Linked DNA regions of Homo sapiens: region 2 is linked to region 1. Evidence: fine-mapped QTL for protein levels in blood plasma. A gene starts in region 1. The other region holds a variant in brackets. All regions are shown on one strand. Distances are between the middles of the regions.

What was found. PIP is the chance, under the fine-mapping model, that this variant and not a neighbour inherited with it causes the effect. Protein levels are from antibody-based Olink assays in UK Biobank. Linkage for the fine-mapping came from a reference panel and not from the study's own genotypes, which makes the PIPs less certain.
Region 2: its variant is fine-mapped to the plasma level of the RNF43 protein (UK Biobank, PIP above 0.99). The variant lies in the coding sequence of RNF43. If it changes the protein, the assay may bind it differently, which can mimic a change of level.

The regions. Positions count from the first base shown.
Region 1 is chr17:58,415,172-58,420,695 of GRCh38, reverse strand. It overlaps RNF43 (ring finger protein 43), which reads left to right and starts at 3,162. Exons shown (of 10, transcript NM_017763.6): 1 at 3,162-3,679; 2 at 4,734-5,370. The coding sequence starts at 5,119. HSF5 (heat shock transcription factor 5) reads left to right here. Exons shown (of 6, transcript NM_001080439.3): 6 at 1-529.
Region 2 is chr17:58,356,188-58,361,187 of GRCh38, reverse strand. RNF43 (ring finger protein 43) reads left to right here. Exons shown (of 10, transcript NM_017763.6): 7 at 244-405; 8 at 937-1,039; 9 at 2,365-3,720. Among named protein-coding and RNA genes, the nearest start is that of SUPT4H1, 6.5 kb to the right of the region's middle. The variant G/A (reference allele first, on the strand shown) is at 2,440.

The sequences.
Region 1 (5,524 bases):
ACCTATATCTTTTGGCCAGACTATATAATATTTTGTCAGAGTATGTGAAGAGGAGACCCAATTTCCAAATGAAGGAACTTTGCTTTTTCTCTGTCATGTTGAAGAGCTAATATACTGTGTAGATTTTCCCCTAAATATGGCTTTCTTAGCTTTATAGATGTTGAGATAATATCTTTTGAGGAACACATGTCAAGCAGGAACCTTGGCATAGATTTGGTTTCAGTTGTTTTAAGGCTTAATTAATGAAATGCCTTAATCAGCTTTCCAAACATTTTTATATATGAATACAGCAGACCAAGGAGCTGGATCTCCTGCTATCCTTACACGCCTTGTATCTATCAACTAAAGCTGTCATTAATGACTTGGGCAAAATGGCAAGAGGTATAATAAAGTCTTCCTGTGAATTAGCCAGTAGGGTCTGACACAACTAGTCAACTAACAAGGTTCCTGACTAGTACCTCAGTATTTCAGCACCTTAAGCACTGATAAATTTCAATCAGTCAACAATAAAGTGAGTGTTCCAACTAGACTTGTTGTCTTGCTTGTTCTTACTGTTTGGTGATTAATAGAAAATTCAATAATTATGACAGTTAATAGTATAATTCAAATGAGATTTACTTTATTTTTCAAATAATCTGAATTTTAAAAGTTTTTTTTCATTTGTACTTGAATAGCAATGGAATTTTTTAAATGCCGTTAGGGATAAGGACAATTCTTAGACATGTTTTACAGAAACCTACATTTTTGGAAAAGGATGAATGATCTTTGATAAATTTAATCAATCCAGAGGTGAAAGTAGATCCTGAAGGATGATCTATCTCATGTATAAGACTAGCTAGTAGATGTCATTGAGACTTAGGCATTTCATTACAATAGTGATGGCATCTTTATGACATCTCTAGGAAAATGTAGTAGTATATCAACCCTAGAGGGTAACTCCAAAACTTTGAAGCTGAAGAATAATTGCTCTTGCAATTCTGGTGATCTAAAACAGTGAACTAAGCTACATAGAGCTGTTTGGTTTGATCTTGAGTTTCTCCAAGTCTCCAGGTTCATGATGCATATCATCATCATTTCCAAATCTCAGAGTTTCCTCAAGAGAGGGCAACCACATTTGTAACTGTCTTCTTTCTGTCAATTAAGTGTGTGTATTAATTACTAGGGCTAGGTCTTTTCATTCCTTTGCACGTTTTAAGCAGGAATAGATGAGGCAAAGCCCATTTGTAGGTTATTTTTTAGTTTAACTATGTTAAATTAAACTATGTTGGTCAGGCTGGTCTCAAATTCCCGACCTCGTGATCCACCCACCTTGGTCAACCAAAGTGCTGGGATTATAGGCGTGAGTCACCACGCCTGGCCCAACAAAAATTTTTTTTAAATTTGCAGGGTGTTGGCCAGGCGCAGTGGCTCACGCCTGTAATCCCAGCACTTTGGGAGACCGAGGCGGGTGGATCACAAGGTCAGGAGATGGAGACCATCCTGGCTAACACGGTGAAACCCCGTCTCTACTAAAAATACAAAAAATTAGCTGGGCGTGGTGGCGGGCGCCTGTAATCCCAGCTACTCGGGAGGCTGAGGCAGGAGAATGGCATGAACCGGGAGGCGGAGCTTGCAGTGAGCCGAGATAGCGCCACTGCACTCCAGCCTGGGCAACAGAGCGGGACTCCGTCTCAAAAAAAAAAAAAAAAAAATTTGCAGGGTGTGGTGGGACGCACCTGTGATCCCAGCTACTCTGGAGGCTGAGGTGGGAGGCCATGAAGGTCAAGGCTGCAGTGAGCCATGATGGCACAACTGTGCTCCAGCGTGGGTAACACAAGACCCTGTCTCAAACAACAAAAATAAACAAAAAATTTATTTTCGAATTTGTCTTTGATCTAGGTTAGTTATTAGATCTGAAATTCTGAAACTACTGTCATAAACCTTATCTACAGGGGAAACAATGTTGAAGGTCAATAGGCTACTCATCCTTTTTGCTTTCAGAGGCATTATGTCATTTAATCTTTACAACAGACCTATCGTAATTATTATCATCAGCATTTTACAGATGATCAGAGATTCGTTTTTACATGAGGTAAGAAACACATAAAATTTACTATCATAACCATTTTTAAGTGTACAGTTCACTAGATTTAACTATATCCACATTGTTGTTCATTTGTATAATTTTGAAAGTTTATGGCAGCGGTTCAGAAATAAAATGTCTCACCACAGTCAAATATAATCTGGTAATTTGAAACTTCAAATGTTATAAATGTATTAGAAACTGTTGTATTATTTCTAATGGCAGGGTAGTAATAAGGATTATAGTTCATGAATGTGGTAATTAGCCAGAAATTCATTTTCTTTTTGCCTATGTTCTTCTCATTAATCATATTTTACCCTTTGGCTTGTATTTATGACATGGACTTATTTGGAGTCTTACATTGAAGGCATAGGTCTGATCCATAGTATTATTTCACCTCCCAAAGATTGAAAAGAAAATAACAGTTGGATTCCAGACATCTGACATCAACCTGATTTGAAAGTTCCATATAGGCACAGTTTAGACAGAGCTACTGAATTTAAATTAGTAAGAGCTGAAGAAAAGCTAAGCATAAAATGGACAGAGCCCTTCCCAGGGTAGCAGACATAAGCAGCAATAAATCAGTAAGTACTAAAACACAGGATCACTTTATTCTGGCTTTCTGCCATTTATAGACACTCAAACTTGGAATGAGCAGAAATCCTTTTGAACTTATATTTGCAAAACCTTGTGTCCATTCTTTTATCTTCCGGATTACCTTTATTTTTTTCTGTTTATTTCCTCATACCATCATCTATGCTCTGTTGGGTGCAGAGTCTGCTTAGATATCTTTGAGTGGCCCTGATTTGCATGTGGTAGCTTGCTTACCCAGAGAAAGGTACTCGGGATCGAATTGGATGCAGTTTAGCTGTGGCTCAGTAGAGGGAGTAGAGGAGCTGAGGGAGGGGGGAGAGCGAAAGAACGGGTCTGGTTAAGTAAGTGTTGTGTGTGAGCACCAGGAGGAGGGGGGCAGGGTGGGGAGTGGTTGCCTCTAGCAGCTCCACCCTCACTTTGTCAGCAGGTAGAGAGCGTGATTGCAGTCCCAGGGGAGGGAGTCAGAGCTAGAACACCAATTACAAACCACAGGCTTCCTGCTCTAGGGAGTTGATCCAGAATTGTCTTTCTGAAAGGAAGCACTCGGAATCCTTCCGAACTTTCCAAGTCCATCCATGATTCAGAGATACTGCCTTCTCTCTCTCTGGGATTTTATGTGTTTCTGATAGTGAATTGTTGATGTATTTGCTACTTTGCTTCTTTTCTCTTTCAAGACTTGATCATTTTATATGCTGTTTGGAGAAAAAAAGAACTTTTGTTAGCAAGGAGGTTTCAGAAATGATTTTGGATTTTCTGTAAGTGTTTAATTTAGTTCTAGGGGACAGCATCTCTCATCCCGGAGTAAATTTCTGCCTTTGACCTGCATGGATTATTTTTTCAGGCTGCGGAATTTCTCGGCACCTACCTGTAGTATGGGGCACTTGGTTTGGTTGCAGAGTAAGAAGGTGGAAGAATGAGCTGTACTTGGTTAAGCAGTTGAAACCTTTTTTGAGCAGGATCTGTAAAAGCATAATTGAATTTGTTTCACCCCCGTGGATTCCAGTGGGCCCGACAGCGCAACAGGTTTGCAGATTTCTTTTGAAATTCCTTTTTCCCCCCTCCCTCTGCCTCAGCAAAAGAAAAGAATCCATATAACAGGTTCATGTTCAATTGCTTGGCTTTTCAGCACTTATTCTGAAGACTTTATAATATTTTTAAACTTGACCTTGGAACACAGAGGGCTTTGTGGGTGAGGTGTATTTATATTTACTTAAGGGTGCACATTTTAAAAATCTTATTCTGTGTTTGTACAAAGACGCAAATTTTCATAGTGCCTAGAAATAGCACAGATCTATTCTACTCAAGATTATTTGTATTTTTTCAGGGTATTCTACCTAGAGCCTGTGGTTAATCGCCTCCCTGCTCCCCCTACCTTTTATTCCCTACCCCCTCAGGGAATTTGGATACATGTGAGGAATAGTCCTTTGTTTTTCTTATGAACCTAGAAAATTACAGATCATAAAATCTGGATATTAAAGTAGTTTCCAAAAGCATCTCATGGGAAATCAAAGTGCTCGGCATTTCCGAGCTGGAGAATAAAATCAAGAATCCTTAAGAGAGAAAAGAAAATGGAGATGGAAATATGAATTTTAACTGGGAAAAATAATTGGAAAGCTAACCTTTTCAAATACTCTAATTATGAAAGTTGGAAAAGGTTGTGATGCTCAGGATTATCCTGTAATGTGTGAAGATACATAAATTAGCACCTAATTTATAGGCAAATTTTGGTAAAACACAAAAAATTATGGTATGTCTAAGTTCATGAAAAGTATGTAAATGCAGTGGGCCTAGAAACCTGGCCACACTGAAATACAGTTTAATGTGGAAACTTTTCTAAATACATATTGTAGCATCTTTGGACATCAACGTGTGGCCTGAAATTTTTATTATTGTTCCCTCTTCTCCTCCATTAAAAAAAAAATCTCCTTGTGGTATTTAGTCATTTACCATTAACACATATTATGGCTTAAAAAGGGCCATCCCTTCCTTTTCTGAGCTGGAGTTCTTCACGCTCACCTTTGATGCATGGCCTTAGCTGTTTACTTTGCCTTGTTTTGTTCATGAACATTGGGTTTAGTGCCTGGCAACTTGATGCATATGGAAGAGCAATGCCAAGTGATCTGACATAATACAAATTCACGAAGTGACATTCAATCACAAGCAAAGTTGGAAATTCCAAAGAGAAGTGGTGAGATCTTTACTAGTCACAGTGAAGATGGGAGAAAATGACATACCTGCAGCAGATGTGGGCTGAAAATATCCTCTTCTCTGCCCAATCAGGAATGCTACCTGTTTTTGGGAATAAACTTTAGAGAAAGGAAGGGCCAAAACTACGACTTGGCTTTCTGAAACGGAAGCATAAATGTTCTTTTCCTCCATTTGTCTGGATCTGAGAACCTGCATTTGGTATTAGCTAGTGGAAGCAGTATGTATGGTTGAAGTGCATTGCTGCAGCTGGTAGCATGAGTGGTGGCCACCAGCTGCAGCTGGCTGCCCTCTGGCCCTGGCTGCTGATGGCTACCCTGCAGGCAGGCTTTGGACGCACAGGACTGGTACTGGCAGCAGCGGTGGAGTCTGAAAGATCAGCAGAACAGAAAGCTATTATCAGAGTGATCCCCTTGAAAATGGACCCCACAGGAAAACTGAATCTCACTTTGGAAGGTGTGTTTGCTGGTGTTGCTGAAATAACTCCAGCAGAAGGAAAATTAATGCAGGCAAGTATAACTTTATTATATTTCACTTTCCATCTGTTTGAAATATGTCTTTCTTCTTTTGTCTCCCAAATGAAATACCATACACGGGCTTCTACTGCTTAGCTTTCTATTTCATAGAAAGAGTAGATACTGCCTTATTGGCATTCTAAATTTA
Region 2 (5,000 bases), 59 kb after region 1:
ATAAAAAGTTTCTCTCATGGGTCATCAAAGGAAGAAAAGCTAATGGTATAAGCAGGTGGGTGGACTGGGAGAGCTTGGCATGCTTGGCAGAGCCACATATGAGCTCCGAGGAGACGAACTCCTAAGGATGTTCAACTGGCCATGTGATCTACCTGAGTGACTGGGAACGGAGTCCAAGCTTGGGTCCAGAGAGGGAGGGAAGGGGAGCCCATGCCCCAATCTGAGCCCCATTCCTCTTCCCAGGATCCGCTTCAGCAGAGAACAGCCTGGGCCATCAGCCAGCTGGCCACCAGGAGGTACCAGGCCAGCTGCAGGCAGGCCCGGGGTGAGTGGCCAGACTCAGGGAGCAGCTGCAGCTCAGCCCCTGTGTGTGCCATCTGTCTGGAGGAGTTCTCTGAGGGGCAGGTAAGGCAGGTCTTGTGGTTCACCTCCATGACCAGACTGGGGAGATTGAAGCTGGGGGAGGGGTGGGCAGGCCTAGGGGCTGGTATGGGTACCCTGGCTACATCTGTTTCCCATGTGTCCTGCATGAGGCAGAGATCAGGGACCAGCCTGAAGTTTGGTCACTTTTCTGACCTTCCAGTGAAAGAGCACTATTGTTTGTTGAGAGTGTACCACGTGCCAGGCTGCAGTGGTGCTTTGGATGCATTATCTCATTTTAGACCCATGGCAATGAAGGGTGGGGTTAGATTCATTTTTTTATCTTCATTTTACAGCAGAAAACTGTCTGTTAAGAAAGTTGCCCAACGTCATGCAGCTAAGTGCAAAATCCAGGTCTATGTGATGCCAAAGCTCATACCATTCCTATTCTACTGTGAGGTCTTTTACAAGTAGATAATAGCAAGGAGAGGCCTAAGGGAGTTGGGGGATGTCCTGATTCCTGGCAATTCCTATGGCTACAGAAGCCTTTGGTTTGGACCCCCTCTTTTTCTCCAGGAGCTACGGGTCATTTCCTGCCTCCATGAGTTCCATCGTAACTGTGTGGACCCCTGGTTACATCAGCATCGGACTTGCCCCCTCTGCATGTTCAACATCACAGGTAGGAGGTGGGCCAAGGACTCCCCTCTGTGTAGGCAGACAGGTCTAGAATGTGGCTTCCCTTTGGGAAAGGGTTGCAGCCTTGAAGCTGGGGAGAAAGCAGAACTGCCACCATAGTTGTATGGGCTGTACACTGCTCCAGAGTGCCTCACTCGAGGGGAAGCGTCATTCAAAATGTAAATATCTTTATTTATTTATTTTTTAATTTTAATTTTTATTTTTTGAGACGGAGTTTCACTCTCATTGCCCAGGCTGGAGTGCAATGGCGTGATCTCGGTTCACCGCAACCTCCTCCTCCTGGGTTCAAGCGATTCTCCTGCCTCAGCCTCCCGAGTAGCTGAGATTACAGGCATGCGCCACCATGCCTGGCTAATTTTGTATTTTTAGTAGAGACGGGGTTTCTCCATGTTGGTCAGGCTGGTCTCAAACTGCTGACCTCAGGTGATCTGCCTACCTTGGCCTCCCAAAGTGCTGGGATTACAGGCGTGAGCCACCGTGCCTGGCATGTAGATATCTTTATTATTATTATTATTATTATTATTTTTTGAGTTGGAGTCTCGCTCTGTCGCCCAGGCTGGAGTGCAGTGGCGCGATCTTGGCTCACTGCAAGCTCCGCCTCCCAGGTTCACGCCATTCTCCTGCCTCAGCCTCCGGAGTAGCTGGGACTATAGGCGCCCGCCACCATGCCCAGCTAATTTTTTTTTTTTTTGGACTTTTAGTAGAGACAGGGTTTCACCATGTTAGCCAGGATGGTCTCGATCTCCTGACCTTGTGACCCGCCCGCCTTGTCCTCCCAAGTGCTGGGATTACAGGCATGAGCCACCGCGCCCGGCCGTAGATAATCTTTATTATTGTAAAAATTATTTGTATTTCATGGCAAGTTTGTTGATTCTAAATCTGGGTGATTTATATGTTTATTATTCCAATTTTCTGGCAATAAAATATTCTATTCTAACAAAATCAGTATGTTAACATAATTTTCTAAAAGATGAAAGTGAAATAAATATCTTGAGGAAAGAGAACCTTTTTCTAAGGTACCCACAGGTGCCCTATGGGCTAACAGTGGCCCTGGGTGAAAGAGCTCCAAATGGCTGAGGGGAGGTTTAGGGATTGACACGCATAGTGGCCCTCCCAGGGCAGGCAACCTGACTGGAGGGAACAAAGGAGTCCCAGAGCACAGGCAGCTTAGGCACGTCCTTGATCCCCCAAACTCTGAGCTCACAGGCTACTCAGGGTCAAATAGATTAGCTACAGCCATGTCTTTCTGAATGCATTCTCTGTAGGTTTGTAGAGTTAAACATCTGTGCTCTTGGTTCTTTTTTCCAGAGGGAGATTCATTTTCCCAGTCCCTGGGACCCTCTCGATCTTACCAAGAACCAGGTCGAAGACTCCACCTCATTC[G/A]CCAGCATCCCGGCCATGCCCACTACCACCTCCCTGCTGCCTACCTGTTGGGCCCTTCCCGGAGTGCAGTGGCTCGGCCCCCACGACCTGGTCCCTTCCTGCCATCCCAGGAGCCAGGCATGGGCCCTCGGCATCACCGCTTCCCCAGAGCTGCACATCCCCGGGCTCCAGGAGAGCAGCAGCGCCTGGCAGGAGCCCAGCACCCCTATGCACAAGGCTGGGGACTGAGCCACCTCCAATCCACCTCACAGCACCCTGCTGCTTGCCCAGTGCCCCTACGCCGGGCCAGGCCCCCTGACAGCAGTGGATCTGGAGAAAGCTATTGCACAGAACGCAGTGGGTACCTGGCAGATGGGCCAGCCAGTGACTCCAGCTCAGGGCCCTGTCATGGCTCTTCCAGTGACTCTGTGGTCAACTGCACGGACATCAGCCTACAGGGGGTCCATGGCAGCAGTTCTACTTTCTGCAGCTCCCTAAGCAGTGACTTTGACCCCCTAGTGTACTGCAGCCCTAAAGGGGATCCCCAGCGAGTGGACATGCAGCCTAGTGTGACCTCTCGGCCTCGTTCCTTGGACTCGGTGGTGCCCACAGGGGAAACCCAGGTTTCCAGCCATGTCCACTACCACCGCCACCGGCACCACCACTACAAAAAGCGGTTCCAGTGGCATGGCAGGAAGCCTGGCCCAGAAACCGGAGTCCCCCAGTCCAGGCCTCCTATTCCTCGGACACAGCCCCAGCCAGAGCCACCTTCTCCTGATCAGCAAGTCACCAGATCCAACTCAGCAGCCCCTTCGGGGCGGCTCTCTAACCCACAGTGCCCCAGGGCCCTCCCTGAGCCAGCCCCTGGCCCAGTTGACGCCTCCAGCATCTGCCCCAGTACCAGCAGTCTGTTCAACTTGCAAAAATCCAGCCTCTCTGCCCGACACCCACAGAGGAAAAGGCGGGGGGGTCCCTCCGAGCCCACCCCTGGCTCTCGGCCCCAGGATGCAACTGTGCACCCAGCTTGCCAGATTTTTCCCCATTACACCCCCAGTGTGGCATATCCTTGGTCCCCAGAGGCACACCCCTTGATCTGTGGACCTCCAGGCCTGGACAAGAGGCTGCTACCAGAAACCCCAGGCCCCTGTTACTCAAATTCACAGCCAGTGTGGTTGTGCCTGACTCCTCGCCAGCCCCTGGAACCACATCCACCTGGGGAGGGGCCTTCTGAATGGAGTTCTGACACCGCAGAGGGCAGGCCATGCCCTTATCCGCACTGCCAGGTGCTGTCGGCCCAGCCTGGTGAGTTTTCAGAGGGAAGTGGGTGTGGTAGGGAGAGGAGACTACAGCTGAATATTTCAGGACAGGTGAAGTCAGCCAACAAAGGGTTGATGGAAGCTGAGAAGGATACAGCAGAGATGACAACCAAAATACTTAACCATCGGGACAGCGTATCATGCTGGCTAGAGTGCAGGAACACCCCACCTCTGCCAGGTGCTACCCCTTTAGTTGGCAGATCACAGGGAGGTCCCAGGGAGGTGCTGGTGTGGCTGAGGCATCAGAAAGGCACTTGGAAGGCCGGGTGTGATGGCTCATGCCTGTAATCCCAGAACTTTGGGAGGCCTAGGTGGGTGGATCCCTTGAGGCCAGGAGTTCAAGACCAACCTGGCCAACATGGTGAAACCCTATCTCTACTAAAAATACAAAAATTAGCCGGGTATGGTGGCGGGCACTTATAATCCCAGCTACTCAGGAGGCTGAGGCAGGAGAATCGCGTGAACCTAAGAGGCGGAAGTTGCAGTGAGCCAAGATGGCGCCACTGCACTCCAGCCTGGGTAACAGGGTGAGACTCCATCTCAAAAAAAAAAAAAAAAAAAAAAAAAGAGGCATTTGGAATGGTCCCCGGGGTAGTAGCTCAAACATAAGTGTTTCTAAATTTTAATAACTGGTTTAGTTCTACCAATGCTCACAGCTCAGTATTAGTTCTAAATACAAAGAAGGCTAAGAAGTGTTCCTCGGGGGGAGCTATAGTAGAAATAATTACACATAACCATAATACGAGGCTATATAAGAAGAGCTATGTGAACAACGAGAAAAAAGAGAGAGAGAGAAACCACAGGTGGTTCCCAGCAGCCCTGTGGAGCCTTAGGTTTTCTTCTCTTCCCCTGTGGTAAAAGAACAAGGAGGACTTCCCTTCAACACATCATTATTAATAAGACTGACCTTAATTTCTTGGGGATTCAGTGCATCCCTATATCATAAGCAGTGATCACGTAAATTCTCAACTTTAACATGGTGTTTACTTGCCCACATATCTCTCTTTTCCATTCAGGACCTTCCACCTTCTACTCTTCCCCATCTTCCCCCATTGTATGGATGACACAGTTCTTTGTCTACAGCCATCACTAGAACCCTTCCAACCCAGGAGGTGACACAAAGGTCCTGAAATATTCTTCAGTGTAGGAATTCTTCCTGCAGGACCTAGGAGCTGCCCTCATCCAATTCATTCATTTATTCATTTCCTTTCTCCTTCCTTCCTTTTTTTCCTTCTGACTATATGCCTGCTTTGTGCTAGGTTCCAG